Linked DNA regions of Homo sapiens: all the other regions are linked to region 1. Evidence: fine-mapped expression QTL. A gene starts in region 1. Each other region holds a variant in brackets. All regions are shown on one strand. Distances are between the middles of the regions.

Region 1 (8,216 bases):
AGTGATGCATACATGGGGCTTCATTATCCTATTTGCTCTACTTTTGTATATGTTTATTTTTCCATAATAAAATTTTTTTTTAATTTTTCTGAACCTGAGATGATGGAAATGTCTGTGCTTCCCATTAAAACAGGTTCAGAGTACAACAGAAACTTTGAGGGAAAAATAGATAATGTTCAAAAGTAAAAAAGATAAAATTCCTCATGATGAAGTCTCTGAAGTCATCTTTAAGTTAATGGTTTAAAAAAATTAAAATTTTGCTAAGTTCAATAAAAAATCAAGTCATTGAGTAAGTACTATTGTCGACACTTGACTTAAAATGTGACCCACTTGGGGAGAGGGAGAGACTAGATCATAATTTTCCAGTAGGGTTTCTAATTGGTTGTTTCTGAAAGCATTATGAGGGATGCTTAGAGATCACAAGGGCTTCTGAGATAAGCACACAGGATTAATTTTCAGACTCTTAAAAGGGTAGCCAACGGTCATTCACTATCTGATTTCTCTTACCTCCTCTTTCTGCATTCACAGCTGATTCCACTGAATCAACACAAACTTCCATGAGAAATCCATTTGCTGCTCCTAAAATACATGGAGAATGGTAAGAGTTCATAAAGGTTCTATCCATCCAGACCAATTTACCACAAAGGGTTTACATTCTGCTGCCAAAATGCAAATGTCCAATAACAGGTAATAGATAAGTACACTAGGGCCCATGAATGCAATAAAATATCACATTAATTATTGAATTGATGCCTATAGACTGAAATAGGTACACAGACAGATGTATAAAAAATTATACTGAGGAAAATGTCTATCGAATGCCAAATTAATCTTCCTAAAACATAGACCTCATCATCACATTCCAGCTGAGATTCTTACAATGCTTCTCAATGCCTGCAGAATATATTTAAACTTCTTTATAAGGAATATAGGTTTAAAAGCAGGACAGACTTCAAATCCATGTCCCACCAACTATTTAGTGTGAGATCCTAGATTAGTTACTTAAGTTTTCTATAAAACAAGGTAGATTTTAGTATGTACCTCAGAGTAGTGAGGATTAAATTAGATAATTCATGTAAAGTATATAGTCTCAAGAATCAAAAAGTATTAGTTATCTGGCCGGGTGTGATGGCTCATGCCTGTAATCCCAGCACTTTGGGAGGCCGAGGTGGGTGGATCACATGAGGTCAGGAATTGGAGATCAGCCTGGCCAACATGGTAAAACCCTGTCTCTACTAAAAATACAAAAATTAGCCAGGCATCGTGGCATGCGCCTGTAATCCCAGCTACTTGGGAGGCTGAGGCATGAGAATCGCTTGAACCCAGGAGGTGGAGGTTGCAGTGAGCCAAGATTGTGCTACTGCACTCCAGCCTGGGTGACAGAGTGATACTCTGTCTCATTCCTTCTTATGCTTCCAGATCTCTCCAGTCCCTACCGCTGGCTCCCCAATGCCTTCTCCTCAACCCAGAGTTCCTTCTGGCTTCATCTCTGAATAAAATTTTTCAAGGAACATTTCCATGATTTTTTCTGTCTCCCAAAGTAGAAAATTTTATGTCCCTCTTTTGAACTCATTTAACTCTTCATGAGTTATGAAACCCCAATTGTTCCTTCTTAAAATATGAATTACTTTCTACCTTTTATTATTTATGCAGATAAATATCTGATCACTTCTACTTGACTTAGAGTTCCTAAGTTTGTTTTTTTTTTTTTTTTTTTTTTTTTGATACAGAGTCTTGCTCTGTCGCCCAGGCTAGAGTGCAGTGGCATGATCTCGGCTCACTGCAACCTCCGCCTCCCAGGCTCAAGCAATTCTTGTGCCTCAGCCTCCTCAGTAGCTGGGACTACAGGTATGTGCCACAACACCTGGTTAATTTTGTATTTTTTGTAGAGATGGGGTTTCGCCATGTTGCCCATGCTGGTCTCAAACTCCTGCACTCAAGCGATCTGCCAGCCTCGGCCTCCCAAAGTGCTGGGATTATAGGCATGAGCCACCACGTCTGGCCTCCTAAGTAAGGTCTTTATGTGAGAAATCTTTATCATCACCCACACCAAGCACAGTATCTACCATGGTACACAATAATCAAATATTTACTAAAAGCTGAATAATTACAACAAAATTAATGTATTTATATTACAAAGTGTGATGTAAACAGAGTTTTGAGTTTTTTTCCGGGAGCACATAATTTAAAAAAATGAACGAAACAATGCACACTTCATGTAATGACACTTACTAGAATGTTCCTCACATACTGGTAATGGTCACTTCTGGTGGGGTGTGATTTGAAATTATTTTTATTTTCTTCTTTTTACTTTTCTTTATTGCTTTATTTTTTCTACCCAATATTGCTTTTATAATTTAAAAAAGCAATTTTTACTTTGAAAAACAAATAAAACAAAAACCTATCATCTGCTAACATCAAACTGCAATTGCCTTACTTATTTAAGACTATCAGTCCCTGTCCGGCGCGGTGGCTCACGCCTGTAATCCCAGTACTTTGGGAGGCCAAGGTGGGCGGATCTGAGGTCAGGATTTTGAGACCAGCCTGGCCAACATGGCGAAACCCCATCTCTACTAAAAGTATATAAATTAGCCGGGCGTGGTGGCGGGCGCCTGTAATCCCAGCTATTCAGGAGGCTGAGGCAGGAGAATTGCTTGAACCTGGGAGGTGGAGGTTGCAGTGAGCTGAGATCAGGCCACTGCACTCCAGCCTGGGCGACAAGAGCCAGACTCCGTCTCAAAAAAAAAAAAAAAAAAAAAATACTATCAGTCCCAAACTGTGAAAGGGTTAAGTGTCAATCTATGCTCTTAACCAACAGCTCTGCATTATTAACTCCATGAGTTTCCTGGTAGCTACCAGACCAGCTGTCAGATCAGTGGCACTGGCCGATGCTGATGCTGCCGGGGGACTATTTGCCTCACACAAGAAAGGACCCTAGGCAGGAGAAGATGGAGAGATGTATAAAAAAGGCTATGACAGAAGGCAGAGCAAGGCAGTTGTCCCAAGCAACAAAGTTATAGGATCAAAGGAGAAGCAGCAGCAGTTCTCAAAGTGTAGTAGTCCAGAGAGCTTTGGGAGCCTCTGAGACTTTTCAGAGTCTGCAGGGCTACAACCGTTTTCTTAATAATTCTAACACTTTATTTGACTTTTTCACTTTAATTCTCTCACAAGTGAGAGGCGTTTTCTTTTTTGAGGCAGAGTCTCACTCTGTCACCCAAGATGGAGTGCATTGGCGCGATCTCGGCTTACTGCAACCTCCGTGAAGAGGCGTTTTCAAGAGGCTACTTGACATGTTAGACTGAATGAAGCAGCGGGCATGAGAATCCAGCTGTCTTCCATTAAGATATACTGAAGAAACTTGCAAAAATATATTTCCACTCTTTTGCTTTTTTTGTTGTTGTTGTTTAGGAATATTTCTTTTTCAAAAAAATATTATGTCAATATGTAATGGGTTTACTATGGTTATTTTCTAATCAATATTTTAAAATTTTGTTTTAATTTTATTTTTATTTTTTTGAGACGGAGTCTCGCTCTGTCGCCCAGGGTGGAGTGCAGTGGCGCGATCTCGGCTTACTGCAACCTCCGCCTCCCGGGTTCAAGTGATTCTCCTGCCTCAGCCTCCCGAGTAACTGGTATTACAGGCGCCTGCCACCATGCCCAGCTAATTTTTGTATTTTTAGTAGAGACGGGGTTTCACCATGCTGGCCAGGCTGGTCTCGAACTCCTGAGCTCAGATGATCTGTCCCCCTCGGCCTCCCAAAAAAAAATTTGTTTTAATTTCTAATACAGTCAAAATAGATAGATGTAATCCACATAAAGAAAAAATCTTTGAGGATTCTTGATAACTTTTAGGAAGGTTCCTCTTCACGGAGGAAGAGGGACTTGCCAAATTCTCTGGCACCTGCCATGCCATGCTACCCTGGCACTCAGGAAGAACTCGGGTCTTGGAGCAGCCACAAGCTCGGCCACTTGGTAGCTGCGTGACTTTGGGGACCAAGCCCCGTCCCCGCCGTGGCAGCTACAGGTAACTGCAGGTTAGGAACTGGGCTCCGCGCTCGACAATTAACTATCCCAGCGGAGTACTGGCTGCTGGTGCGGGCGGTACTGGCATCCTCGTGTGGCGACGGAAAAAACGTGAAGCTGAAGTTAACCAACTTGCACAAGGTCGCAGGGCCGTTATGAGGGGACCCCGGGACTCGAACCTTGGCTCCACAGCTGAGCCATTCTCGCTACCTGCCCCTCGTCACGCCCTCCGTTTCCACACCTTTAACGCCTCAAAGATAGAAGGTGCCGCCCAAGGGGCTGGAAGGAGCTGAGGAAACGACTCCAGAAGAAATCACCACTGACTACGACTCCCGCCGGCCCGCCCCGGGGAGCCTTCGGCCGACCGTCCCCTCCCCCGCCACCTTCCGCACCGGCCTTCCCGGACGGTATCCGCGCTCGTTTTCGCTCAGAGGAGGCCCCCTGCCTTTTCATGCTCCACGCGTTCCTCCCTCGTGCGCCTGCAGTTTCCACTTGGAATTTGGGCTCCGGCGCGCACCAGCTAAGAAGCGCGTCAACAGCTGCGCGCGCCCGTGCGCGCGTCCCCGACACCTACGCCCCAGCAGCCCCCGCGAAAGCGGAGTCGCAACGCAGGCGCACTTCTGTTCGCTCCGGTCCCCAGAGAAGGCGGGGCTCCCGCTGCCCGACCCGGAAGTGCTTCTCTTTTCCTTGGCGGAGGAGGGAGACCACAGAGCCCTGGGTTGTGGAAGAGGTGGCTGTTCCCTGTCATCAGTATGCAGCGATTGCTCTTTCCGCCGTTGAGGGCCTTGAAGGGGAGGCAGTATCTGCCGCTCCTGGCTCCTAGGGCAGCGCCTAGAGCACAGGTACCGCACTGCAGCGGACTCCGAGTCGCGGGAGCGGGGATGGAGTGAAAGGGCCGGGATAAAGATAATGTAGAGCCCCACATCACGTTTCCGGAGCTCCTTACAGTGCACTCACAACGCATAGGTTCAGATCAGAGCCCCTAGGTTCAGATCTGGAACATTGACCTGCTGTGTGGTATTGGCCAAGTTAATTAAACTTTCTGTTCTTCAGTTTCCTTATCTGTAAAATGGGGATAACAATACCTACTTTAAGGTTTGTTATGAGGATTACATTCTTTAATATACATCAGGCCTTTAGCACATGGTAAAAGCTGAGTAATTTTTACCCATATAGTTTATTTTTGCTTAAAAAGTTCCAAGTAGTCAGATGAGGAAGTATTACTGCATCCTACAGAGAAGGAAATTGAGGCTTAAAGTTACTTTTCTAAAGGTGACTCAGTTAATCAGAAATAGGAAACCGAGCATGGATCTTTGGACTCACAGGGATATAGTAAGAAGAGGGCATGCATTTGCTTAACTAGTAATTATTGAGTGGTTATTATATATTAGGAACTGGAAAAAGAAAGATAAATATTACAAGACTCCTGCCCTGGAGGAAGTCAGTTTATTCATTTGCGAAATCCTTATCATGGTCTCATTATATAAAGGAACAGTGTTAGAAACAAAGCTAGCAGAAGGGAGAGAGCAAGACTGACCGGACACTGCCACCCCAAAGCTCATAGTTTAGTGGGAGATACAAACAGATGAACCTGAAGGTAGAGTGATGTGCTGCATAACAACATTTTGGTCAACAACAGGCCACAGATACAGTCATGGTCCCATAAGATTATAATGGAGCTGCCTTTCCAAGTGTACCTTTTTTTTAAAAAAAAATCTTTTTCTCTAAATTTCTTTTTTAGAGACAGCGTTTTACTTTGTCACCCAGGCTGGAGTGCTGTGGCATGATTATAACTCACTGCAGCCTCCAGCTTGGAAATCCTGGCCTCAAGCATCCTCTTACCTCAGTCACTTAAGTAGCTAAGACTACAAGTGTGTGCCACTGTGCCTAATTTTTGAAAAAATAGAGATAGGGGGTCTCGCTACATTGCCCAGGCTGGTCTCGAACTACTGGCCTCAAGTGATCCTCTCACCTTGGCCTCCCAAAGCCTTGGGATTATAGGCTTGAGCCGTTGCACCTGGCCCCATTTTTAAATCTTTTATACCATATTTTTACTGTAATTTTTCTATGTTTAGATAAACAAATACCATTGTGTTACAGTATTCGGTACATAATATGCCATACAGATTTATAGCCTAAGAGCAATAAGTCATACCATATAGCTCAGGGGTGTAGTAGGCGATACCATCTAGATTTCTGTAAGTACTTTTTTTTTTGAGAGATGGAGTCTCACTTCATCGCCTAGGCTGGAGTGCAGTGGTGAGACCTTGGCTCACTGCAACCTCTGCCTCCCAGGTTCAAGTGATCCTGCCACCTCAGCCTCTCAAATAGCTGGGATTACAAGCATACACCACCATGCCCAGCTAATTTTTGTATTTTTGGTAAAGATGGGGTTTCACCATTTTGGCCAGGCTGGTCTTGAATTCCTGACCCAAGTGATCTCCCTGCCTCTGCCTCCCAAAGTGCTGGGATTACAGGTGTGAATCACTACACCCAGCCTTTAGATTTGTGTAAGTACATTCTATGAGGTTCACACAATGATGAAATTGCTTAAGAATGCATTTCACAGAACATGTGCCCCTGTTGTTAAGTGATGCTTGACTGTACATTACAGTGTATTAAGGGCTTTCCAGTGTGCTGTGGGAGTGACCTATTGCAGACCTTGAAGAGCCTGGGAATACATCCCAGAGGAGGTGACATGTAAGCGGAGATCTGCAGTAGGTATTATTAATCAGGGGAAAGGAAGTGTACAAGCCAGAGAGAAATGTTGAAAGACCTAGAGGTGAAAGAAAATATTCCATATCTGTAAGTAGAGTGAAGTCTGAGGGAAGTATTCAGAGATGAGAAGATTCATGTAGTTGGGGATAGGTTTGAGTGAGGCTAGATTTGAAAACCAATTGGAAAACCAGTTGGAAGGCTGATGCAGTAATCCAGATAAGAGATGATGACTTAACAAGACATGGCTGTGGGGATGCTATGGTACTTCGCGCTAATCAGAATGGGGTTGAGTGTGGGTAGCAGCCATTCCCTGTTTCTCCAGTTGTAATTTGTCTATCTTGATCTTTAGTGTGATTGCATCAGGCGCCCTTTGAGGCCAGGGCAATACAGCACCATCTCTGAAGTAGCTTTGCAATCTGGAAGGGGTACAGTGTCCCTTCCCTCAAAGGCTGCTGAGCGGGTGGTGGGCCGATGGCTCCTGGTCTGCAGTGGAACAGTGGCTGGAGCAGTTATTCTTGGTGGAGTAACTAGGTAAGTAATTTGCTCGTAGTGAGTCAGGTATTTGGATCATCAGTAGAAGCACAGGTTGACTGAGGAGAAAGGATTTTTTTTTTTTTTTTTTTTGAGACAGAGTCTTGCTCTGTTGGCCAGGCTGGAGTGCAGTGGTGTGATCTCGGCTGACTGCAACCTCCGTCTCCTGAGTTCAAGCGATTCTCCTGCCTCAGCCTCCCAAGTAGCTGGGACTAGGCGCGTGCCACCATATCTGGCTAATTTTTTGTATTTTTAGTAGAGACAGGGTTTCACCATGTTGGCCAGGCTGATCCAAACTCCTCACCTCAGGTGATCTGCCCACCTCGGCCTCCCAAAGTGCCAGGATTACAGGCATGAGCCACCATGCCCAGCTGGAGAAAGGAATTTTACAGAGCATCTAGTCTAGCTCCCTCATTGTATAGATGGAGAAACCGAGGCCTTAAAGAAGGAACATGTCTGATGGCTTGCCCTGCCATAGAACAGTTGAGTGTTTTATTAGTAGGAGCCTTCTATAAAGACTGGTTTATGTCTTAACTGGTACCTGTGCATTGTTTATGTATCTTTTCTCTTTCAATCAGAGTCCAAGTTTGTCTCAAAACTTTTTTTACAGTTTGTTTGAATTAAACCCAAAGAAGTTCTGTACATCACAATTGGTTCATGTTTCTTAGGTTTGTTTAAATCTATCAAGAGACTATAGATTTAGACACTCCTCCCTTTCCCCCTCTTCTAGTTGCTGAGGAAACTCTAGTCATTTGTCCTATGGTTATGCACAGTTTAGATTTTGCTGACTGCATAACTGTGTGATATTTAACATGTTCCTTTGTCCCGTCTATTTCCTGTGAATGAGTAGTTGGTTGATCAGATTCAAATTAGGGATGAGGGAGCAAAATACTTCAGTAGGTGAATAGAACATTCGTGAATATCTGGTGTCTATTATAGATGTT
Region 2 (8,216 bases), 350 kb before region 1:
AGTTCAGACATAACTTCATTTGGTTTTTCATTTATTCAGCACATTGTACTGGGATTAAGTGGTGAACAGTAGGATAAAATAGTCTTGGCCTTCATTGAGCTTAGCTTCTACTGGGAGAGGCAGTCCATAAACAAGAAAGCGAATAAACAAGGTAATTACAGATTGGCAGCCCAATACTGACTGAAATAAGCAGGATGATCAGACAGCATGACCAGGGAAAGTTCCAGAAGAGATGATTGAGAAAGTTCTCTCAGTGTTGTTGACCGTGGTGCTAAGACCAGAAGTATGAGATGGATGGGAAAGAGAATTGGAAAGGGCTTGGTCTGGCTTGAGGACTGACTTTCCTTGCCTTCCAGACTTTGCTGGGTTCCCTTTGCTCCACCCCTCTCATAACACTTAAAATCCAAATATCTCTCAAAGAGTGATTGGTGATTTGAACTAAGCTGAACTCTTTTTTTTTTTTTTTTTTTTTTTTCAAGACGGAGTCTCACTCTGTCACCCAGACTGGAGTGCAGTGGTGCAATCTCACTAACTGCATCCTCCATCTCCCAGGGTTAAGCGATTCTCCTGCCTCAGCCTCCCAAGTAGCTGGGATTACAGGCACACGCCACCACACCTGCCTAGTTTTTGTATTTTTAGTAGAGACAGGGTCTCACCATGTTGGCCAGCCTGGTCTTGAACTCCTGACCTCAAATGATCCACCTGCCTTGACCTCCCGAAGTGCTGGGATTACAGGTGTGAGCCACCGCACCCAGCCTGAACTCTTGATTCATTTATAGGTGCAGTCAACTAACATTTATTGAGCAGGGTTAAATTATATCAAGACTTCTCTGCAGAGTTACTGCTGGGGATATAAAGAAAGAAATCTTAAAACTATGATAAGTAGAGTTCTGGTTTGGGAAGGTTGGTTCATTTGCCTACACAGGGCTGGCATTCTCTCTCTCTCTCTCTCTCTCTCTCTCGCTCGCTTGCTCTCTGTCTCTCTCTCTCTCTTGCTTGCTCTTTTGCTCTTGCTCTCACCCTCTCCCTTCCCCTTTCTCCTCTCTCCTTTGTCTAGGTCTAGGGAAAGAAGACAAAGGAAAGAGGACAATTGCCCCCATGTCCCTACTTAAGGGTAAATATCCTTCTGTCTCCTTCCAACCCTTTCCAGATTTGAACGTACTCTCTTTGCTAATCTGTCTCTGGTGGCTTCCTACCCTTGTTCCATATCTGAATTCACTGAAATGCATTGAGCAGGACGTTAGGCTAACTGTGCCAGAGTCCAGGCCCTCCTCCACCACTTACTAGTTATGTGACTCTGGGAAAATTTCTCTTCTAAAATGAAATTACGGTACCCTCCTCCTTGGGAGGAATAAATAAAGAAGTAGTTGGTACTCTGTAAGGCAACATAGAATTGTAAAGTGTTATTAATATTTGCCTAAGGCAGAATGGAGATGCATCTGTCCAGGCGGGGACAACATTGAGGACACTGAGAACCCAGAAAGAAGGAAATGCCTAAAATTAGGGTGAGGAGGAGAAGAAACAGAAAGAACTCTGATGATACCATTTGGTCCAGACCTATACAGCCATTTGCAGGGCTAGCTGCCCAAGATTTGAATCAAGACCTTGGAAGGATGTCAGACAATGAAGCTTTCTGTTCCAGCCTCTCCCCAGGAGCCCCAGTTGTGTGGGTATTTGGGGGTGTATTTGTTTCCTATTGCTGTGGTTAAAAAAATGAGCACAAATTTTAAAACAACACAAATGTATTATCTTACAGGTCTAGAGATCAGAAGTCTGCAATGGGTCTCATTGTACTAATATCAGGGTGCCGGCAGAGCTGTGTTCCTTGCTGGATGTCCCAGGGAGCATGCGTTTCCTTGCCTTTTGCAGTTTTTAGAGGGTGTTCACATTCTGTAGCTCGTGGTACTCTTCCACCATCTTTGAGGCCAGTGAGACAGGTCTCACTCTGTCACCAAGGCTGGAGTGCAGTGGCATGACCGTGGCTCACCTGCAGCCTTGACCTCCTGGACTCAAGCGATCCTCCCACCTCAGCCTCCTGAGTAGCTGAGACCACAGGTATGCACCACCATGCCTGGCTAACCTTTGATTTTTTGTAGAGATGGGGTCTTGCCATGTTGCCCAGGCTGGTCTCAAACTCCTGGGCTCAAACAATCCTCATGCCTTGGCCTCCCAAAGTGCTTGGATTACAGGTGTGAGCCACCACGTTGGGCTGCAACCTTCATTTTTTCTGCAAACTTCATTCCCCTTTGCCATGTAACATAACATTTCAGTTTCCAAGGATTAGGGTGTGGACACTTTTGGGAGGGTCACTATTGTGCATACCACAGTGGGAGACAGGACTCTAAAAATAATCTTGTTAGTTTCACTCCCGCAGATCCTCCAGCCAGCCCTCTCTGACCTCCCAAAACTAGGTGAGGTGAACCTGCTTGGTGGTCCTATGTGGTTATATTCATCACTCATCCCTCTGTGTTGTGCTTGTTTCCTTTTCTGTATCTGTGAGGAGAGAGACTGCTTTTTCACTCTTAATTGTGTCTGTTTCTTCACTGGAATATAAGCACCACATGGGCAGGATCTTTGTTGGTTTTGTTGTAGATTGAAAAAGGACATTATATGTAAAGCCTTTGGCTTTTAGTAGTAAAGACTTTACTATATTTGTTGAATGAATGACTTTTATCCCCATCACCTGGCATGGTCTCTAGCACAAAGTAGATGCTTAATGATGTTGTTGCTGCTATTTCTACTACTACTAATATTTATTGAGCCCTTGCTATGTGCTAGGCACTGTGAAAAAGGCCTTACATACAACATCTTATTTAATCCACACAACAACCCATAGGGAGGAGCTATATTTCCCTATCCTATACAGAAAGAAACTGAGGTTTAGGGAAGTTAAGTCATTTGCCCAAGGTCAAATGGCCTAAGAAAGGGTTGCACTTGGATTTGAAATCATATCCCTCTGACACTGAAGGCCATGAACCTTTTACTTCTAGTTGCTTTGAGAGGCGATGTATGCCCTCTGGCTTGCAGGCATCACTCTGGTACTCTGTGGAATTCCAGGGAAGGCATAGCTACCTCATCCCTGATACTTCTCATTGACAGAGGATATTCCCTGTTTACAAGAATCCACTGTGCAAACAGGTAGAGAGGGTGCATTCCTCTCCCGGAGAATGGGATTCATCTGTTTGGCATGAGTGAGGCCCCATAAAGAACCATAGGCACACTGGGGAGTTACTAAGCCAAGCCCTCAGTAATGACAGTAGATACTGTCCTAGATCAAAGGCTTAATGTGTGACAGCCTTAGTGATGCCTTGATTCCTACCTTTACCACCTGGGGGGACAGGCTCTCCTCAGAAAATTATGGGATTTGAGCTGTGGGTATAGGCAGCAGATGTTTGGTACTGCCAGTTTAGTTCTTATCAGGGCCAACCCTCTGTGACTATCTGGGCCACCTCTCTGTGAGCCGGACTGGCCTGGCCACATAGTGTTCACCCAGTATATCCAAGATGGAATCGCTGTCTTTACTGACTGGTTATAAAAACATAGGATTTTCTTGGGAAAGTTTGCTAAAGACGGAGCAGCAGGATGCAAGGGGGAAAGTCAATAATGGATTTGTGTGTTCATTCATTCACTCACTCATTCATTCAACAAATGTTGAGCACCTGTGCCCAGCTCTATGCTAGGGGGCTGCAGATCACCCTGGAGAGCAAGAGCAGTGTGCCAGCAGGGCTGCACTCTACCCTGACACCCAACACCTAACATGGTGAGTAGTGCATAACAGAGAAAGTGATAGGAATTGGAGGTACAAAGACTGATTGTAGCAGCAACTACAAGGGGAGGTAAGGAAGACCCAGAATTTGAGCTGGATTGAGCTACCTAGGGAAATAGCATGAGTGAAAGCAGGAAGGCAGGGGCATTCTCCAAAGATAGTAGGTGGAGCAACAGTGCTGCACTAGAATGAGGGACAGGATGACAAGTTACAACTGGACTTGGTAGCAAGGACAAAAAGGCTATCTGAGGCATTTGAATTTTACACGACAGTACATGAATGTTCATTGAAACTTTGCTTTTTAAAAACAACAATTTTAGGCCAGGCGCAATAGCTCATGCCTGTAATCCCAGCACTTTGGGAGACCGAGGTGGGCAGATGATCTGAGGCCAGGAGTTCGAGACTAGCCTGGCCAAAATAGTGAAACCCTGTCTCTACTAAAAATACAAAAATTAGCTGGGCGTGGTGGCGGGTGCCTGTAATCCCAGCTATTCTGGAGGCTGAGGCAGGAGAATCACTTGAACCCAGGAGGCAGAGGTTGCAGT[G/A]AGTGGAGATTGCACCGTTGCACTCCAGCCTAGGTGAAAAGAGTGAGACTCTCTCTCAATAAATAAACAAATAAATTTAAAAAACCAATTTTTTAAGGTCTGATTTACATACCACAAATTTCACCCTTTTTAAGTTTACAATTAAATGATTTTTTTTTTTTTTTTTTGAGATGAAGTCTCTCTCTGTCGCCCAGGCTGGAGTGCAGTGGCATGATCTCAGCTCACGGCAACCTCCGCCTCCCGGGTTCAAGAAATTCTTCTGCCTCAACCTCCTGAGTACCTGGGATTATAGGCGGGTGCCACCACACCCAGCTAATTTTTATATTTTTAGTAGAGATGGAGTTTCACCATGTTGGCTAGGCTGGTCTAGAACTCCTGATCTCAAGTGAGCCACCTGCCTCAGCCTCCCAAAGTGCTGGGATTACAGGCGTGAGCCACCGTACCCGGTAAGTTTATGATTAAATGATGTTTAGTAAAGTTATCAAGCTGACCAACTATTACCATCACCCAGTTCTAGAACATCTCCATCACTCCAATAAGATCTTCCTTGGATCCAGTTTGAGTGGCTGATTCATCCGTTAGAAAATAAATCCCTCATGCCCATTTACAGTTAATTTCCATTCCCATCCCCAACCTCAGGGGAACATTATTTTACCTTCTGTCTCTATAGGTTTACCTTTGCAGGACATTTCATATAAATGGAATTATACATTATGTGTTTTTTTCATGTCTGGCTTCTTTCACTTTGCATAGTGTTTTTGAAGTTCATCCACATTGTAGCATGTAGTCGCATTTTATTCTTTTTTTTGCTGAATAGTGTTCAATTGTATGGTTATATCATATTTTATTTATTCACCAGTTGATAGACATTTAGGTAGTTTCTACTTTTTGCCTATTATGAATAATGCTGCTGTGAACATTCTGTGGGCAAGTTTGTTCTATTGGGTACATACCCAGGAATGGAATTGTTGAGTTGTATGGTAAATTTATATTTAATTCTTTCAGAGGGCTGTACTTATTTTTTATTCCCTTTTAAAAACAGCTTTATTGAGATACAATTTGCATATCATAGAATTCATCTGTTTTAAGTATGCAATTCAATGAATTTTAGTATATTTATCGAGTTGTATAGACATCACCATCACCACAATCTAATTTTAGAACATTTCTATCACTCTAAAAAGAAATTTTGTGTCCACTTGTGGTGTTTTGGGTCTGGCTTCTTTTACCAGGCATGTGTAAGATTCATTCACATTGTACAATATATTAGCACTCCACTCCTTTTTATTGTCAAATACTATTTCATTGTATGGATATGCCATATTTTGTTTATCCGCTCAGTGGTTAATGGACATTTGGGTTGTTTCCACTTTTTGTCTCTTGTGAACAATACTGCTATGGACATTTATGTACAAGTTTTTGTGTGGATGTGTGTTTTCATTTCTCTTGCATAGGTACCTAGGAGTGAAACTGTTGTATTATATAGTAAGTATATATTTAACCTTGTAAGAAACTGCTAAACTGTTTTCCAAACTGGCTGTACTATTTATTTGTTTATCTTTATTTTTTATTTTTTTTGAGATGGAGTCTCGCTCTGTCACCAAGCTGGAGTGCAGTGGCGTGATCTCAGCTCACTGCAACCTCCTCCTCTCAGGTTCAAGCAATTCTCCTGCCTCAGACTCCTGAGTAGCTGGGACTACAGGCGTGTGCCACCATGCCCAGCTAATTTTTGTATTTTTAGTAGAGAGGGGGTTTTGCCATGTTTGCCAGGATGATCTCGATCTCTTGACCTCGTGATCCACCTGCCTCGGCCTCTCAAAGTCCTGGGCTACAGGCATGAGCCACTGCACCTGGTCTGGCTGCACTATTTATGAGGGTTCCAGTTTCTCCCTATTCTCACCAACATTTGTTATTGTCTGTCTTTTTTATTGTAGCCATTCTAGTGGAGGTAAAGTATATTTCATGTGTGATTTTTGTTTGTTTGTTTTTTGAGATGAGGTCTCACTCTGTTGCCCAGGCTGGAGTGTAGTGGCATGATCATGGCTCACTTCAGGCCCCACCACCCAGGTTCAAGTGATTCTCTGCCTCAGCCTCCCTAGTAGCTGGAACTACAGGCATGCCATCACACCCAGCTAATTTTAAAAATATTTGTAGAGGTGGGGTCTTGCTATGTTGCCCAGGCTGATCTCAAACTCCTGGGCTCAAGTGATCCTCCCAATTTGGCCTCCCAAAGTGCTGAGATTATAGGCATGAGCCACCATGACTGGATCTCATGTGGTTTTAATTTGTATTTCCTTAATGACTAATGACACTGAACATCTTTAAATGTGCTTATTAGCCATTTGTATATCTATTTTGGTCAAATGTTTTGCCCATGTTTTAATTGGGTTGTTTGTTTTCTTATTGTATTGTAAGGATTCTTTACGTATTATGGGGGTATTATCGGATACATGATTTACAATTGTTTTCTCCCAGTCCGAGGCTAATCTTTTCCTTTTCTTAATGGCATCTGTTGAAAGATTTTTGAGGAAAAAAAGGACAAAATACAGCCATGCTTCAGAAAGATAGGCAGGCAGCAGTACGTGGGATGGATCAAAAGGGACAGAGAACTCTTTTTGAAAGTTGTAATAAAAGGAACAGGCACAGGCCAAGTTTTAAAAAATTCTCCAGGAATCAAAGGGTTATAAGCAGCTATTTATTGAAGCCTGTTTACAGTCCAGTTAACCAGTAAACCAGAATCAGTGAAACTACCCATCTGGGGAAGTGCAAAAAACCTTTCAAAAGGCTTTCCTGGATTAGAGAAAGAAAGGGAGTGAGGGAGGAGAGATGAGTGGCTATTCCAGAACGACATAAAGAATTTCCAGCCTTGGACGGACAGCTGGGAACGTCTTCCAATTTGGACTGGTGTTTACAAGCGGGAAGCTAGGTGGACCTTGGATTTTGGCGGGTGAAGAGGCTAGGTTGTTTAAGGAGGTGGGGCGCGTTTCAGTGGCTCTCTTTGAAAAAGCCCAGCAAGATGTCAGACCTGCTCTCAGTCTTCCTCCACCTCCTCCTTCTCTTCAAGTTGGTTGCCCCGGTGACCTTTCGCCACCACCGCTATGATGATCTTGTGCGGACGCTGTACAAGGTGCAAAACGAATGCCCCGGCATCACGCGGGTCTACAGCATTGGGCGCAGCGTGGAGGGGAGACACCTCTACGTGCTGGAGTTCAGCGACCACCCTGGAATCCACGAGCCCTGTAAGTTCTGAACAGCTCTTGAGGGTGTGTGGGGCAGGGCCTTTCCCTTGCAAATCCAGTAATTGGAGTGGTTTCTGGGGTGGTCCGTGGACGCCTCCGCCTACAAGGTATTATCTCTTTCTCAGCCTGTGCTATTTCCCTCTTAGCCCTCAAACTGCCACTGCCTCTGGGGAGCTATAACCCTCCTTCAGCCTTCAGATCTTTCCTCCTTTTTGGGTTCTGTTTGCTCAAAACTTTAATGGTAAAAGATGAGTCTTCTTCCCTGCTCATGTCCCATATCCCTTCATTTCCCCCATTTCCTTTCTTTTCCCCTTACTATTGTTCTGTCTTTCCCCACCCAATGGCTCAGGAGACATAGGCAAAAACAATGAGCCCTTCTAGTTCTGCCAGGAAACTTAGAAGGGTATAGGGGAATCTCTTCGGGGAGTGACAGTGTGGTATTCCAGAGAGAGTTTGGGGACTTGGGTGTCAGTTTTATTTACTGGATTCTTTTTTATTTTTTATTTTTTTGAGACGGGGTCTGGCTCTGTTGCCCAGGCTGGAATGCAGTGGCATGATCTCAGCTCACTGCAGCCTCCACCTCCTGGGCTCAGGTGATCCTTTCCCCTCAGCCTCCTAGGTAGCTGGGACCACAGGCATGCACCAATACGCCCGGCTAATTTTTGT
Region 3 (8,216 bases), 130 kb after region 1:
ATTTTCCCTTTGTAATCAATAAGTTATTTTCATGGGGGTGCTCTGAATCTATGTACATATCCTCTTCTTTATCAAACTTCTATCCACTAGTTTTAGCATCCATTGATAATTCCTGTCTAAATCATGGTTGCACAAAGATGATATTCTGATGTTATCATTTCTGCTATAAGAGAGAGCTATCCCTTCTCTTTTATTTATTTATATTCGTATGAGCTCATAGATTATTTTATTCTATGGCTATTCTATAGTGATATTACCACTGTAATATTGTGCTGTAATACCACTGTGATGATAATAAATAATTACCATTATTTATGCTGATGTTCGAATACTCCCAGATTTGGCCAATGGGGGTCCCTTCTGATTCCTGTGTTCTTTTTCTATATCTCCATTTTTTAAAAAGCACTTCCTTGCTTTCTGGCACAACACGATATTCTAAGCTTATCTTGTACTTTCCCCCTCTCAGTCCTAGAATTAGTCATTTCTCCAAGGAGCCCTAGTTTTTTTTTTTTTTTTTTTTTTTTAGTACGAAATGGTATTTAGAAACCAAGATCCAAGTGCCAGGTATACTCAATGCTACTGTAGTGTCTACTTCTAGGCCCTTTAGCCCACAGAGCTAAGAAATATACATATTTTATCTTAATTTCTACATCTGTACACACAGACACACACACACACACACAAAATCATGGATTCATATAGATACCTCCAGTTCCAACTCAACACCACAAAATTCATTTTAGTCCTCCCTTTCTCCATATTTATAACTCTCCTCTCCAACAGCAAGAACTAGCTTCCAATATCCTCAGTACATTTACTCATTTGTGCAACTCTACAGCACACAAAAGGTATTTCAGAATTGCTCACCCATATCACTACAGAAAAAACTCCTTCTAACTAGAATTAAATATTTGTTGGGCTTGTTTATTTGGTTTTTATCCTCCCTTCAGCATCGCAATATTATTTGTTTAAAATAGAGTTATTTAAAATGAGTTAAGTTCATTCCTTTTTTTTCACGTCAGGTAACATGCTGATGTCTTAAGGTTTGAAGGAGGCACATCTCACATGTGTGTGAAAACCCAAATCATCATGTTCACGGGCTACAAAAGGATGCATTTGTTTCTATTTGTATTCCATTCTAAGTTTCTTCCCCCTTCTCATCCTTGTTGACTTTTTTTTTAGTGGAGCTTGTGGATTTTGTGGATGGGCTTTACCGGGTCTATAAACCCCTCGGAGTTTTATGCAAAATATTGAATATGTCTGCCTTTGGAGCAAGGGTAGAGAATCCATAAGATTCTTAAAATGATCTTTAACCTCAAAATTTAGGAGCACAATAGAGAAGAGCAGGAATCCAGGGACCCTCTAAGAGGCTTCCCACTAGTGGGGTAGGAAGTTCTGCCAGACTGTGAGACTCTCAGGACAGACAGGATCTTCTTTATCTTATATGTCCACTGCTGAGCATGCACATAAATGCAGAGGGAACAGAAACCAAAGGAAAATGGAAGAGAAATGTGGGAGCAAATCTGTACCTTGAAGCAAACTCAGGATTGCTCTTTCTTTCTAAGCATTTCCCCACCAGTGACATCAGCTCAGACGTCTTAGATTCTGGTCCTCCCAGGGCATGCCTAGAACCACACCATGGTGGGGGTGGGGACACAGCCTGGGCATCTGTCTATAGGCATACATAGAAAAATAAACTAGGCCAGGCGCGGTGGCTCACGCCTGTAATCCCAGCATTTTGGGAGGCCGAGGCAGGTGGATCACAAGGTCAGGAGTTCAAGACAAGCTTGGCCAAGATGGTGAAATCCTGTCTCTACTAAAAATGCAAAAAAAGTAGCTGGGCATAGTGGCGGGTGCCTGTAATCCCAGCTACTGAGGATGCTGAGGCAGAGAACTGCTTGAACCTCGGAGGCGGAGGTTGCAGTGAGCCAAGATCACACTGCCACACTCCAGCTAGGGCACAGAGCAAGACTCCATCTCAAAAAAAAAAAAGAAAAGAAAAATAAACTAGGCTGGGCACGTGGTGGCTCACACCTGTAATCCCAGCACTTTGGGAGGCCGAGGCGGGCGGATCACCTGAGGTGGGGAGTTCGAGACCAGCCTGACCAATGTGGTGAAACCCTGTCCCTACTAAAAATACAAAAATTATCCAGGCGTGGTGGCACACACCTGTAATCCCAGCTACTCGGGAGGCTGAGGCAGGAGAATCGCTTGAACCCAGGAGGCAGAGGTTGCAGTGAGCCGAGATTGCGCCACTGCACTCCAGGCTGGGTGACAGAGCAAGACTCTGTCTCAAAAAAAAAAAAAAAGAGGAAGAAAGAAAGACAGAAAAAGAAAAAGAAACTAGAAGAAAAACCCCAGTTCATTGCAAAGATAACTGACCCAATGCTCTGATTTACTCCCTGCACAGGTTTCTTTTGGCTGCAAGGCCCCTGCCAAATTGGAGAACAAGAGCAATTATACCTGAATAGAAAAGCCGTGAGTCATGAAGAATTAGTCCCCTGCAGGCACTAACTGAAAGCTTTCCCTGGGTATGGTGGGAGGTAGGGACCCCCACTGACATCTAAAGCAAGATTTTTCATTGAAGGGTGGCACTGCTCCTTGGGGAGCTTCTGCTGCTAGAGAGGGGCCTAGGAAGGCAAACAATAAGGTGAGGGACACTTGGTCAAGGAATATTCTCCCTGGATTGCCTCCTTTAAACAGTATATTCCACTAGGCACAGGTGAAGACAGAAGAAGATGCAGTCCCTGCCACAGGGCTGAAAGAACGTTTAGAAAATCAAGCGTCAGCAAAAGCCAAATTGTACAACACAAACCGAGCCCACACTAGCTGAGTGATCTGTGGGGTGGGGTAAATCAGAGGAAGCTCCCAGAGGAAGGGGTATGAATTTTGAAGAAGAGTTGAGCCTGAAAAAAGAAGAGAGGTGAGACAAGGGCACTCCATCTGGCAGTCATGGCTCAAGGAAGAAGCGGAGGTATGGAGGAGAGGCGGCTTGATCCTGAGAGCAGAAAAGGGAGGTCTTGCTTCAAAGACCAAATTGGAGGGGACTGGAGTCCTGTGCCTGTAAGAGGCATTGTTCTTCAGGAGGAAGAGATCGTGTGTGGGGCTGACTTGAGGAGTAAGGAGGATGGCAAGAAGTTACTGAGGTCCCCTGGGACCAGGGATGGAAAAATTTACCTGGCTGGACAGGTGACTGTGGGATCGTGTATTAATCCTATCTGCTAGCAGATGAATAAAAGATGAAAATAAGAATTGACACTTTATAATACTCTGTGCACTTATATTGCATTTTCACGTGTAGCATTTTTACAAGCAACAATTGAATTATAATTCTTGCACATCTATTATGTGCTGATCATTGCAGGTAGCTGCTCAGGTGAGCCTCACAACCACTCTCTGCGGGAAACATAAAGGAAGTCATGTACTATCACTTGATATCATGTGCTCTAAATTTGCTCAAATGTTGAGTCTCATGAGAACCCTATGAGTCAGATGTGGCAGGAATTATTATTCCTGTTTTATAGATGAGAAAACTGATGTTGAGAAAGGTTAAGGCACTTGCTCCCAGTCATATAGCCAAGGACTGTCAGCCGGCCCTTTTTGACTCATACTAAGATCTTAATAGCTTACTTCCACTTTGACTTCATGTGCACAGTGTTAACAGTGACCTCCATGTTTTTGTAATGCCATTTTGGCCTAGGTCTGCTGCCCACTTGAGCTAAACACTCTCAATTCCTGGCATTGATTTACCAAAGTTTAGTAATTCAGCTTGTTGAGGGTCTCAAGGTCACCATTATTTCTTCATGCCAGGGCTGGGTCTCAGGAAAGCAAACAAAATGCTGACGGTCACTTGGAATCTGAGCAAGCAAGGAGGCTATCCCCGGGGAGACAGCTTCCTCAGCCCTGTCTGCCACATACTCCTGCCAGCCGCTGGGAATCCACTTCCACTGCCCAGCCGCCTCC[A/T]GCCATCAGCCTACTGTCAGAATCCAAGCACCAAGCGCTTCTTTCCCTTTTCCGCAAATCCTCCCTTATCCAGGATGATGAGCTGCTTCTTTCCATTTTTCCAACCCACACAATTACATTGCCAAGATGGTCCTTGCAGGTCTCATCTCCAGGACGTGAGAACTTAAGGCTAAATCCTGAGATTCCTGCTTTATCTTCTGCCTAGCTCACCTTATTCTAAGACTGCTTTCCACAAATCTCAGAGGTGGCTACAACACAGTGCCAGGGGCAGGGTGGGGTGAGTGAAAGGCCCATACATGGCTCCAGAGGAGGCTAGTGGGAGCAGGAAGACATCCAAAGATATGTGGGGGAGTGAATGCTACTTCTTAGCTTCCAGTGAAGATCAGACACTGTAACTGTTCATATCATGTTAATGGTTTGACAAGGTTTCTACCTAAGAACAGGACATCAAAACAGGCTCTGGAGCAAGGGATCAGATTAGGAACTTGAGTCAATGTCGTGTCTCACAGGTGTTCTCAGACAGATGACTATATCCTTCCCTGGGTACTTGCAGGGTAAGCACATCCCCTCGAAATAGCAGCAGCTCTAAACATGAAATTCTTCCTGGAGGATTTTCTTACTCTTGAGTTCTATTCTACCAAATTTTTTGAGCACTTACTGTCAGGCATTCAGAATGTGAGCAATGACAATAATTTACCTACACTTTTGCACTTACAGTATGCTGGGCCCAGTTGATTCTCAAAACAGTTCTGGGAATTAGCTATAAAAATGCCCCCATCTTACAGATGAGGAAGCTCAGGCTCAGAAAGGCAAAAAAAAAACCATGCCTGAACTCACACAGCAAGAACATGACAGAACAAGCGTTCCAACGCAGGATTCCAAAGGTAGTGTGGCTCGCCAGTGCCCCTCAGGGTCCCTAAGAAGTGAGAAGCAGTCCTGCCTGCAGGAGCCCAGTCCCAGGGGTGAGACTGATTTGTAAAGAGATCATGAGACGTAAGTGCTGTAATAGAGGCATGAGGAAAGTTGTTTCCATTCTCTTTCTGCCTGTTCCTGGAGTGGTGCTCACGGGAGGGGACCCAGGACCTTTGGAAATGTAAAGTGTAATACTTAGGTTTTTGTAATTGGTCACTTCTTTGCTAGCTGTCAGAGGTTCAGGAGGCCAGTGAGGAGTGGCCGGCTTGGAGGGTCCTTGTGTTTACATGACAGCCCAGGGCTGTCATATCCATTGTCTCGTGTGATCCTACCCTGCTGCACTTGCTGTTCCCTCTGCAAGGAACGCTCTTCCCCAGATACCACCTGGCTCACTCTCTCTTTATCTTTTATTTATTTTACTTTTAGATAGATGTATTTTTTGAGACAGGGTCTCGCTCCGTTGCCCAGGCTGGAGTGCAGTGACACAATCTTGGCTCACTGCAACCTCCATCTCCTGGGTTCAAGCAGTTCTCATGCCTCAGCCTCCTGACTAGCTGGGACTACAGGTGCACACTACCATGTCCGGCTAATTTTTACATTTTTTGTAGAGACAGGGTTTCGCCATGTTGGGCAGGCTGGTCTCAAACTCCTGACCTCGAGTGATCCACCTGCCTCCCAAAGTGCTGAGATTACAGGCATGAGCCACTGCAACTGGCCTGTTTATACATTTTTTGTTTGTTTGTTTGTTTTGTTTTGTTTTGTTTTGAGACAGAGTCTCGCTCTGTCGCCCAGGCTGGAGTGCAGTGGTCTGATCTGGGCTCACTGCAGCCTCCGCCTGCTGGGTTCAAGCAATTCTCCTGCCTCAGCCTCCTGAGTAGCTGGGATTATAGGTGTGCACCACCACACCTGGCTAATTTTTGTATTTTTAGTAGAGACAGGTTTTCACCATGTTGGTCAGGATGGTCTCAAACTCCTGACCTCATGATCCACCTGCCTTGGCCTCCCAAAGTGCTGGGATTATAGGCATGAGCCACCGTGCCCGGCCTATACATATGTTTTTGAGAAAGGGTGTTGCTTTGTCACCTAGGCTGCAGCACAATGACGCAATCACAGCTCACTGCAGCTTCGACTGCCCTGGCTCAAGTGATCCTCCTACCTCAGCCTCCCAAGTAGCTGTGACTACAGGTGCAAACATCATGCCCAGCTAATTTTTTAAAAATGGTTTTGTAGAAATGAGGTCTCCCTTATGTTGCCCAGGCTGGTCTCAAGCTCCTGGACTTAAGTGATCCTCCTGCCTTGGTCTCCCAAAGTGCTGGGATTACAGGCGTGAGCTACTGAGCTTGGCCTGGCTCACTCGCTCACTTCTTCCTGGTCTTGGTTTCAGTCTCACCTCCCCAAAGAGATCTTCCCCAAATTCCTTATCTAAAATAGCCTCCCCTACCACTCTATCCCTTTCATTCCGCTTTATTTCTCTTATTGCACTTACCGCTGTCTGAAGTTTTTTATATGTTTGTTTATCATCCGTCTCCCCCAAATGAGGACTGGGACTTTTTCTGTTCTCCAGCACCAAGAACAAGACCTGGAACACAATAGGTACTTAATAAGTAATTTGTTGAGCAAGTAAACCAATTTAAGCCTTAAAACAATGCTGCAAGGTAGGTGTCATTAAAATTGTGAAGCTCATGGCCATCTGGTAAGGAAGGAAGCAGGCCTAGAGGAGTCATGTGGCAGGTCCAGGTCCCACAGTGCACACCCATCAGCCCGGGTACATGCCCGGGTCCCCCTCTTTCCCACCAGTCTCTTTGCCCAACACTATTCCTCTCCTCCCATGACTCAAATACTCCATAGTTCTGTGGTCCAGAGACTGTTAGTTCATTGTAGAAAGGAAAGAAACCCAACAATACCCGGGAGAGCCATTTATAATCCCTGGGCAGGGCAGGGTCGTGTCCTCTGAGGAGCATGACACAGCATCAGTGTCACCAGCTCTTCCAGGACCTCCCTGCCAGTTGCTGCCTGGTGTCCAGTTGCAGTGCAGTGGGCTGAGCTCAGATCACCCTCCAGGTGGAAAGAGCAGCTCAACCTCATGCTTTGCAATGAATACCTGCTTCCCCCTACCCCTTCAGGCCTTTCATGAGGATTCCTGGAACAGCATGCCAGAACGCCTGTCTCATAGGCTAATGCAGCGTGAAAGAAATCATCTTACCCTGTGGGGGCAGCAGGCTGCTCCCAGCTCTGCAAAGACTGAGTACTGGGTAAAGACCCCCTTCTGGGTTCCTTCCCACATAAGCGTTCGGGGTTGTGCTTGGCAGAGGCCACACAGAGGAAATAGCAAGGAAGGGGACATGAGTACAGGACTGTAGAGGTGTGTGTGTGTTGAGGGAAGGCTCAGAGCTCACTCATTCACTCAAACAAGCTAACAAACATGGGGTCTCAGAATGGAAAGAAATATCAAAGCAGTTGGGAGATGTGGGCTTGTGTCAAAGTCCACCTCTTATAAAAGGTGTGGTGTGACTTAGGGAAGTTACTTCCTTTGTTAAATGGGGATAATAAAATAACACCTACTCAGCTGGTTAAAGAATCAAATCCGGGCTGGGTGTGGTGGCTCACACCTGTGATCCTCCTGGGAGGCCAAGGTGGGTGAATCACTTGAGGCCAGGGATTTGAGACCAGCCTGGCCAACATGCTGAAACCCTGTTTCTACCAAAAATACAAAAATTAGCCAGGCATAGTGGTGCATGGCTGCAGTCCCAGCTACTCGGGAGGCTGAGGCAGGAGAATCGCTTGAACCTGGGAAGCGGAGATTGCAGTGAGCTGCAATTTTGCCACTGCACTCCAGACTCCAGCCTGGGTGACAGAGCAAGGCTCTGTCTCAAAAAAAAAAAAAAAGGAATAATGACACATAGAAATTATAATGAATATAATCAACATGTAAAAAGCTAAAGAAGAAAATAAAAATCTATAATTCTACTATGTATAATCACTGTTATTATTTTGTATATCTTCTTTCTTTTCTTTTTTTTTTGAGATGGAGTCGCACTTTTTCGCTGGAGTGCAGTGGCACAATCTTGGTTCACTGCAACCTTCACTTCCCAGGTTCAAGTGATTCTCCTGCCTCAGCCTCCCGAGTAGCTGGGATTATAGGCATGCACCACTGCGCCCAGCTAATATTTTTATTTTTTTTGAGATGGGGTTTAACTATGTTGGTCAGGCTGGTCTCGAACTCCTGACCTCATGATCTGCCCGACTCAGCCTCCCAAAGTGCTGGGATTACAGGCGTGAGCCACCGTACCTGGCCCCTGTATATCCTCTTTCATAATTTATCCAAAGCACATGTATGCAAA
Region 4 (8,216 bases), 41 kb after region 1:
TGCCACCATGCCCAGCTAATTTTTGTATTTTTAGTGGAGACGGGTTTCACCATGTTGGCCAGGATGTTCTCGATCTCTTGACCTCATGATCAGCCCTTCTCAGCCTCCCAAAGTGCTGGGATTACAGGTGTGAGCCACTGTGCCCGGTTCTGTGGCCTTTTCTAACATTATCCAAGAAGCCCTAAGGTTCCTTATGACAGGTTTGGGGATTGGGAAAGTTCAATTTTATTGTACCGCCAATGAAAAGGTGCTATATTTTTTTCTTGAACCTCAAGGGCAGAGGCTGAATTAATCATATTCCTCAGCTCATTCCACATTATCATGGCAAAGCCTCTCTTTTGCTTTATTTATTTATTCTCTTTTATCTTCATACTTAATCTCATTCCATTCTCTGCCATGGGCAACCATTCTAATGTGTTATGTATAATTTTTGTATATATGTATTATTATAAAATGAGGATTCTTGTTTTGAATGTATTTCTTTTTAATTTGTGAAAAATACCATTGTGCCCTGCAATTTCACTCCAAGGTACATACCAAGAGATCCAAAAACTGGGGTGGGCATGGTGGCTCATGCCTATAATCCCAGCACTTTGGGAGGCCAAGGAGGGTGGATCACTTGAGGCCAGGAGTTCGAGACCAGCCTGGCCAACATGGTGAAACTCCGTCTCTACTAAAAATACAAAAATTAGCCAGGCATGGTGGTGGGTGCCTGTAATCCCAGCTACTCAGGAGGCTGAGGCAGGAGAATCGCTTGAACCTGGGAGGCAGAGGTTGCAGTGAGCCGAGATCGTGCCATGGCACTCCAGCCTGAGTGACAAGAGTGAAACCCCATCTCAAAAAAAAAAAAAAACAAAAAAACTTATGTACATAGAAAAATGTGTATATGAATGTTCACAGCAGCACTGTGCATAATAGCCAAAAAGGGAAAACCACTGAAATGTTCATCAGCTGATAAATGGATAAACAAAATACAGCATGGTTGGTCATACAATGGAATGCTGTTTAGCCATTAAAAAGGAATGAAATACCCATACCACGAGATGGCTGAACCTTGAAAACATTTTGCTAAATAAAAGAAGCCAGACATAAAACACCACATATTGTATGATTTCATTTATACAAAATGTCCGGAATAGGCAAATCCACTGGAGAGAGAAAGTAGATGAATAGTTGTCAGGGGTAGGGAGAGGAGAGAATGAGGAGTGACTGCTAATGGGAAATGAGTGGGGAGTGAATATGGGGTTTCTTTTTGGGGCGATGAAATGTTCTGGAATTCAATAGTGGTGGCTGCACAACTTTGTGAATGTACATAACTTTGTGAGTTGTACAAAAAAATATATTAGGCATTCAGGATTATTTAAAATGTTTTAAATGCCATTGTCTCACAGTTTCTTTCATTTTTACCAAGCACTAAGATTCATCTTGAAGAGCCATTATATTGCTATGTGTAGTTACTATTTTTTTTTTTTTTGAGATGGGGTCTCACTCTGTCACCCAGGCTGGAATGCAGTGGTGCGATCTTGGCTCACTGCAACTTCTGCCTCCCAGGTTCAAGCGATTCTCCTGCCTCAGCCTCCTGAGTAGCAGGGTTAGAGGTGCCTGCCCACCCTGCCCAGCTAATTTTTGTATTTTTAGTAGAGACGGGGTTTCACCATGTTGGCCAGACTGGTCCTAAACTCCTGACCTCAGGTGATCCACCCGCCTTGGCTTCCCAAAGTGCTGGGATTACAGGCGTCAGCCACCGTGCCCGGCCTGCTATATGTAAATCTAATTTGTTGCTTGCAAGTATGCATTCCGTACCAGTGTTGCTTTCCATAACCATGTTCCTTTCTAAATCTGCACACACACAAAAGTCATTTCTTTAAGACTTGAAGCCCCAGTCCCGCTTGTCACCTATTTCTTAGTATCAGATCCATGCCTTCGTTTTACCTGTTAAATACATACTAACGAATATAGACTAAAAAGTATCACAACCTAGTTAGTCCCCCACATTTCCAACCCCAGCATGAAATTCTCTGCTGACTGCTAAACTCACATTTCCAACAGTCCTGTGGATATTCTGACATATATGTTCCTTGGGTATCTTAAACTCAATATATCCAAAATTGAAGTCATTAGTTTTACAACTTCTGAACTAGAAGACCAGATAGACGCTCTCATCCAGATCTCTCAGGACAATACTGTTTGCTTAATATCACCCCTGCCCTTACCCCTGTTGCTCTTCTCTCAGTTACTGGGTTCCTCAGTCTTCTGGTTATCTAGGATAGATCCTCAGCACTGCTGGCCATCCTCCCACCCTACTCACACTACCACAATCAATCGCTCAATTACATTGGGTTTTCACTCCAAACTATCCCCTGAAATCTGTCCCCTCCCTTTCATTTCCACTTACTTTGTCTAACTCAGCCCTTTATTACTTCTCACTCAAGGTTCCGTGACCTATATTCTTTCTCCTACTGACACAAAAATTTTTTCACTACAAAAAGATCAGATCACAGTCACACAACTGACATCATCACAAAATTCAGAGCTGAGAAGGACCTTCACAGTTTAATTATTTTATAAATGAAACTGAGGCCCATGTGACTGCCTTACTCAAAAACTTTTGGTGGTTTTCCACTATCTATGGAAATAAAAGCCAGTCCCCTTATGATAGCACTCAATACTGCTCATGATTTAGCTCCATCTTATCTTCCCAGTCTTAACTACTAGCACACCTGAAAATCCTATACTGCAAAAGGCTATTCGTCATTCCCTGGACATTCTGGCCTCTGTGCTGCTTTTTCTGTGCCTTTGTATATAGTGTTCCCTCCATGCAGGTGGCCTTCCCTCAGCCTCCACTCTGCAAAAAAAAAAAAGCCTACTCTCATCCAAGGCCCAGGTAAATACTTTACCTTCCATGAAGCAAGAATGGCTCCCATTCAACTTTGCAAGCTAAGTTGGCTGCCAGTCCCCATATTGCCACAGCTCTCTGTTTAAACCAGATGTTCTCAATGATGGGCAATTTCCACCCTGCCCCACACATCTGGTAATGTCTGGAGACACTTTTGATTGTCACAACTGGAAGGGGGAGGGTTGTTACTGACATCTGGTATAGGCAAGAGATATCATATGATGCATGGGATAACCCCTGATGACAAAGAATTATCTGACCCAAAATGTCAAGAGTGCCAACGATGAGAAGCCCTGGTTTAGATCAAGTTAAGCACTGCTACAGTCTCCCTGATATCACAAGCTGTCTCCACTGACAGATAAATTATAAGTTTTTAGGGACAGTGTAACTCACATGTCTATTCCTTGTACATAATATTGTCTATTCCTTGCACATAATGGGTGTACATAATAGGTGTACATAATGGCTGTACAAAAAGTGTCTGTGTAGGATGAAACTTCTCCCTCAAAATACATTCTTTACATTCTAGTGGGGTAAGGATTATTAGAAGGCCCAGAATGGAATCATCAGTAAGGGGAAAGGGAATAACATTTATTGAACAATAGATATGTATCAAATACTGTGCTCCAGAATGTAAATGCATTATCATGTTTATCCTCAGCAATGGCAGGAGATACCTAGTATAGTTATAATTGTTAAAATGTATTGAACACTTATGCTGGACAGTTTGCTAAATGCTTTACAAACATGGTATTATTTCATCCTCATAACTTTATGAGGTAGATACTATTATTATTCCTTTTTCACACAGGAGGAAGCTGAGGCTCAGAGAGGTAACCTACTCAAGATAACGCAAGCTAGCAAGTATCTGAACAAATATTTAGAGCCAGGTAGGTTGGTCTAAGTCCAAAGACAGTGTCCTTCCTTCTCAAATACTAGCATTCCTAGCAACTAAATTTCCCTAAAAGGTAAAGTACCTGCTTTGCAGGAAGGACAGAGGTTGAGGTAGGAACTTCATAAGCAATTTGGAGAGAGGCTCCTCCCATATCCAGTATCCCTACTGTCCTTCTCCGTCCTGCTGCCAATTCCTGGGTAGCCTCAGCATCTGATTCTGAAATAAATAAGAGAACAAAAAGGCCCTAGTAATTAAAAAATAAAATTAAGTCAAACCCCCAAAACAGCAATCCCTTGAAAATTTGAAAGCAGGCAGGTGCCATGGCTCACACCTGTAATCCCAAAACACTGGGAGGCCAAGGTGGGAGGATTATGTGAGCCGAGGAGTTCAAGACCAGCCTAGGCAACATAGTGAGACACTCTCATAAAAAAAAAAAA[T/A]TTTTTTTAATTAGCTGGGCATGGTGGTGCACACCTGTAGTCCCAGCTACTCAGGAGGCTGAGGCCAGAGGATCATTTGTGCCCAAGAGTTTGAGGCTGCAGTGAGCTATTATCGCACCACTAAACTCTAGCCTCAGTGACAGAGAACCTGTCTCAAAATAAAAAAAAGAAAGCAAACAAGTATACTAACTGAATCAACTATATATTACACAAAGAATAATTCTTGTGAATTACTTAAACATGACATTTTGACTACGTATCCCTAGTAGGATATAGCCTAAGGACAAAAGAAACAAATATCTTAAGCTACATCGCAGTAGTCTTGTTAACAATATTGTTGGTTTTATTATTTAAAAATTATGAAGGGAGACTGAGGCAGGCAGATCACAAGGTCAGGAGTTCGAGACCAGCCTGACCAACATGGTGAAACCCTGTCTCTACTAAAACACAAAAATTAGCCGGGCATGGTGCTGCACACCTGTAATCCCAACTACTCAGGGGGCTGAGGCAGGAGAATCGCTTGAACCCGACAGGCGGAGGTTGTAGTGAGCCGAGATTGCACCACTGCACTCCAGCCTGGGTGACAGAGCAAGACTGTCTCAAAAAAAAAAAAAAAATTATGAAACATATTGTGGAATAAAACAAATAAATGTTTATGTCAATATCTTTAGGAACAAAGATTCAGCATAACAGAACAAAAAGGATATAGGTATAAAAATCAAATAAATTAATAGCACCCTATAATCTTACATATGAGTCAGAAATATGACTATGAACTCATTTATTTTTCTCTTTCTAAAAAATACATATTTCCTAGCTGTGTTCACTGAAAGGCCTAGAAGCAATGATATCCCAGGAGTAATGACCACCTGTGGTATCTGGACCAATAATCTCTAAATACCATCTTTTACTAAAAGAAACCAGGGCTCTTTTAAAAACAGGCCAATGCCAGGTCTAGGGTAGAAAGTATACAAGATGACCCTGGAATACATTGCTGTACCAGATAGCAAGGGGAATATAAAAGAGTATTGGGGTCATATTAAAAGGATACAGCAGCCAACCTAAAGATGCTCCTTAAAATACTAATAATGTGATGGGCTCTAATGCATCTAATATATTAAAATCCATGAGTTCATAATAATAATTAAAACTTTTTTTTCACTGGTTACCTTTGGAAGTTGCTAGACACCAACTCATTATTCAGAAATGTGATAAATAAAAAGAATCAAGGATTTATTCTGTCTTTCCCATAAGAACTATATGTCAGGGTAACCAAAGAGTTGATCAAGAAAAGTTCATTACATAAAAATTCTAGCTGTTAAATGCAGAAGGAATGACAGAATTAGAAATATCACCATTTTGCAATCTCTAATGAAAAACATGTCCAAGCAATGATCACAATTGGCTATTACCACAATTCCATGAAAGGCAGATAAGGAATTTTAATACTAAGTTAGATCAGGCTGATAATACTTGAACTCTCAATACCTGATCAGTCTGAGCATGACAAAAAGTGAGTCAACCAGACATTACAAAACTCCTGATGTGAGTAGTGGAAAACACACAGCGCCTTCTATGATTTAGTCTTGCAGATGGAATTGAATCTGAGTCTAATCAAACATCTATATCTGACCTCCAGTTTAAAGGACATATGAGGGGATAAGAAACATGTTAAAGAAAACATGTTAACCCCACAAAGATGCAGTCAATCAAATCTAGCATGTGGCAAATTCTTTCTACCAGGTGATCCAATTTTTTCTTGCTTTTAAAGGCAGGGGAGTGAGGTGGTAAGGTTAACAATTATAGATTAAAAGAGACTAAAGAGACATATTAATCAAATGCAATGCATGACCCTTGTTCAGATTCTGATTTGAACAAGCCCACTACGAATAAACATTCTTGAGAAAATCAGGAAAATCTATACCTGGATAGGGTATTAGATACGTATTGTATGATATTAGAAATTGTTAATTCTATTAAATTTAAAAATGGCATTATGGATATATTTTTTGTTCATTTTGAAACCCCTTATCTGTTGTAGATACATACTGACATACATGAAAATAAAAATTACATGTCTGGGGTTTGCTTTTTAAAACATTCAATGAGAAAAAAAAACCTTTAATACATGGGGGGATATGGGGGAGAAATGGCAAAACATTAGTAAATATTGAGCCTGGGTAATGGGTCCATGGAGGTTCATTTTATTATTCTACTTTTGTGAATGTTTGAAACTTTCCATATTAAAAAGTTAAAAAGAAATCAAAGAAAGCAAATTAGGACTGGAAAATGAAGCATCTTATGTTTGAAAAAAGAAAAACAACTCAAAATTTGCATTTACATGCTACTGATAGGTTATAACTTAAATCTTCAGCCCTTAGGTAAACTGTCATAAAAAGACAATATTACTCACCATCCTCGTGGTCGAATCTTCCCAAAACAAAGTTGATTCCAATCCATGCATAAACCCCTAAGTAAGAAACAGAAAAGCCCTCACTTAATTCTCTACTGCTATGCCATGTATACACCTCTCCCTTAGGGCTTCTCTTTCCTCTTTTTCTTGGAAAAAGTAATCATAGTATTTTATTCCATACTCTCAATGTAGGAATTTCAAATCTTTCATCTTGTGATTTTTTTCCCTTTTAAAATTATTTGCATCTTCTAAATTTCCTCAATGAATAGAAATTAATTGTATAACAAATGTCTAAGAAGTATAAATCATCTGAATGTCACGAAGATATCGAAAAAAAAGAAAAAATGTAAATTTTGGAGTTCTAGTTCTGGGCAATCTTGTCTCCCCACTGAATACAAATATAAACTCTAGATAGAATGCATGGAGCAGCTTTCTGGAAACTCTGAAAGTAAATGATAATGAGCACACCGGGAAAGAGACCAGGGTTTAAACTACCACCAAGCCAGTAGTGAGTGTCCCATTTTTTCCCCCTCAGATATTACCTGGTCTAGACTTAAGAGCAGCTTGAAACATGAAAGTAAACACCAGGTGTGAACAGAGGAACTTCAACTCATTTTCTGGTCCAAAGAACAGAAAAAGGAATGCCAAAAGTTCAGAGAAAATAAGGGAAATCTCCTGCTTTTTTTTTCTTTCTTATTTTGTTCTCTCTAACCTTAGGCAACAGAGGTAGAATTTGAGCAGGTACCTAAAACTCTGAGGGCTTTGAATTCTTTTCTCTGACCAGAGAAGCTGTAGCTTCAAGACTGTGAAACAAATCCTATTGTTTATTTAGGCTCCCTCTGTCCTCCTACCGCTTGGCCCTGGATGCAGATGCAGTCATGAGAAGTGCATGGCAGAGAGTGGGCAAATTAAAGCCCTGGTATTCTGACAGGAGGATCATGAAAGGGAGCTCCAAGGAACCAGAAAGTGGCAGAGGGATCACAGACAGTAGGGAGCAAAGTTGTGTATGAACCCCTGGGCTCACCTCCAAGCTACAAATACATGGATCTGACCCTAAACAATATCCAAACAGCTCTGAGAGCTGAACTACAGGCTAGGCCACTGCCCAGGTTCCAGATTAGCCACTGGCTGATACACAGGACAAATCCAAATAGCAGTGGCCAAGGCTTTGAAAAATGAATGAATAGGCTGGGCACGGTGGCTCACACCTGTAATTCCAGCACTTTGGGAGGCTGAGGTGGGTGGATCACGAGGTCAGGAGATCAAGACCATCCTGGTTAACACAGTGAAACTCCGTCTCTACTAAAAATACAAAAAATTAGCCAGGCGTGGTGGCACACGCCTATAGTCCCAGCTACTCGGGAGGCTGAGGCAGGAGAGTCGCTTGAACCAGGGAGCGGAGGTTGCAGTGGGCCGAGACCACGACACTGCACTCCAGTCTGGATGACAGAGCGAGACTCTGTCTCAAAAAAAAAAAAAAAAAAAAAAAAAGAAAGAAAGAAAGAAAGAAAAGAAAAATGAACTAATAGAATCACGGGCCGGCCGCAGTGGCTTGCGCCTGTTATCCTAGCACTT

Which allele goes with the higher level. Positions count from the first base shown, and alleles are read on the strand shown. Sizes are in standard deviations (SD) of each study's normalised expression. Not every link is listed here.
For the expression in subcutaneous fat of the gene that starts at base 4,698 in region 1, allele T in region 3 goes with a lower level than allele A (small effect, 0.17 SD a copy in GTEx).

What was found. PIP is the estimated chance that this variant, and not a neighbour inherited with it, causes the effect.
Region 2: its variant is fine-mapped to the expression of COX15 in whole blood (TOPMed, PIP 0.98).
Region 3: its variant is fine-mapped to the expression of COX15 in subcutaneous fat (GTEx, PIP 0.95).
Region 4: its variant is fine-mapped to the expression of COX15 in whole blood (TOPMed, PIP above 0.99). The same link has a PIP of 0.9 or more in blood mononuclear cells.

The regions. Positions count from the first base shown.
Region 1 is chr10:99,728,609-99,736,824 of GRCh38, reverse strand. It overlaps COX15 (cytochrome c oxidase assembly factor COX15), which reads left to right and starts at 4,698. Exons shown (of 9, transcript NM_078470.6): 1 at 4,698-4,865; 2 at 7,091-7,272. The coding sequence starts at 4,776. CUTC (cutC copper transporter) reads right to left here and starts at 4,591. Exons shown (of 9, transcript NM_015960.3): 1 at 4,416-4,591; 2 at 508-579. The coding sequence starts at 4,476. RefSeq lists an enhancer at 4,777-4,996.
Region 2 is chr10:100,080,737-100,088,952 of GRCh38, reverse strand. CPN1 (carboxypeptidase N subunit 1) reads left to right here and starts at 7,084. Exons shown (of 9, transcript NM_001308.3): 1 at 7,084-7,550. The coding sequence starts at 7,328. The variant G/A (reference allele first, on the strand shown) is at 4,312.
Region 3 is chr10:99,594,676-99,602,891 of GRCh38, reverse strand. It overlaps LOC124902589 (small nucleolar RNA U13), which reads right to left and starts at 1,112; the gene lies at 1,012-1,112. RefSeq lists an enhancer at 6,626-7,126. The variant A/T (reference allele first, on the strand shown) is at 3,964.
Region 4 is chr10:99,687,176-99,695,391 of GRCh38, reverse strand. It overlaps ENTPD7 (ectonucleoside triphosphate diphosphohydrolase 7), which reads right to left. Exons shown (of 13, transcript NM_020354.5): 7 at 6,642-6,698; 8 at 3,874-4,007. It also overlaps a transcript of COX15 not described here. Among named protein-coding and RNA genes, the nearest start is that of ENTPD7, 32 kb to the right of the region's middle. The variant T/A (reference allele first, on the strand shown) is at 4,229.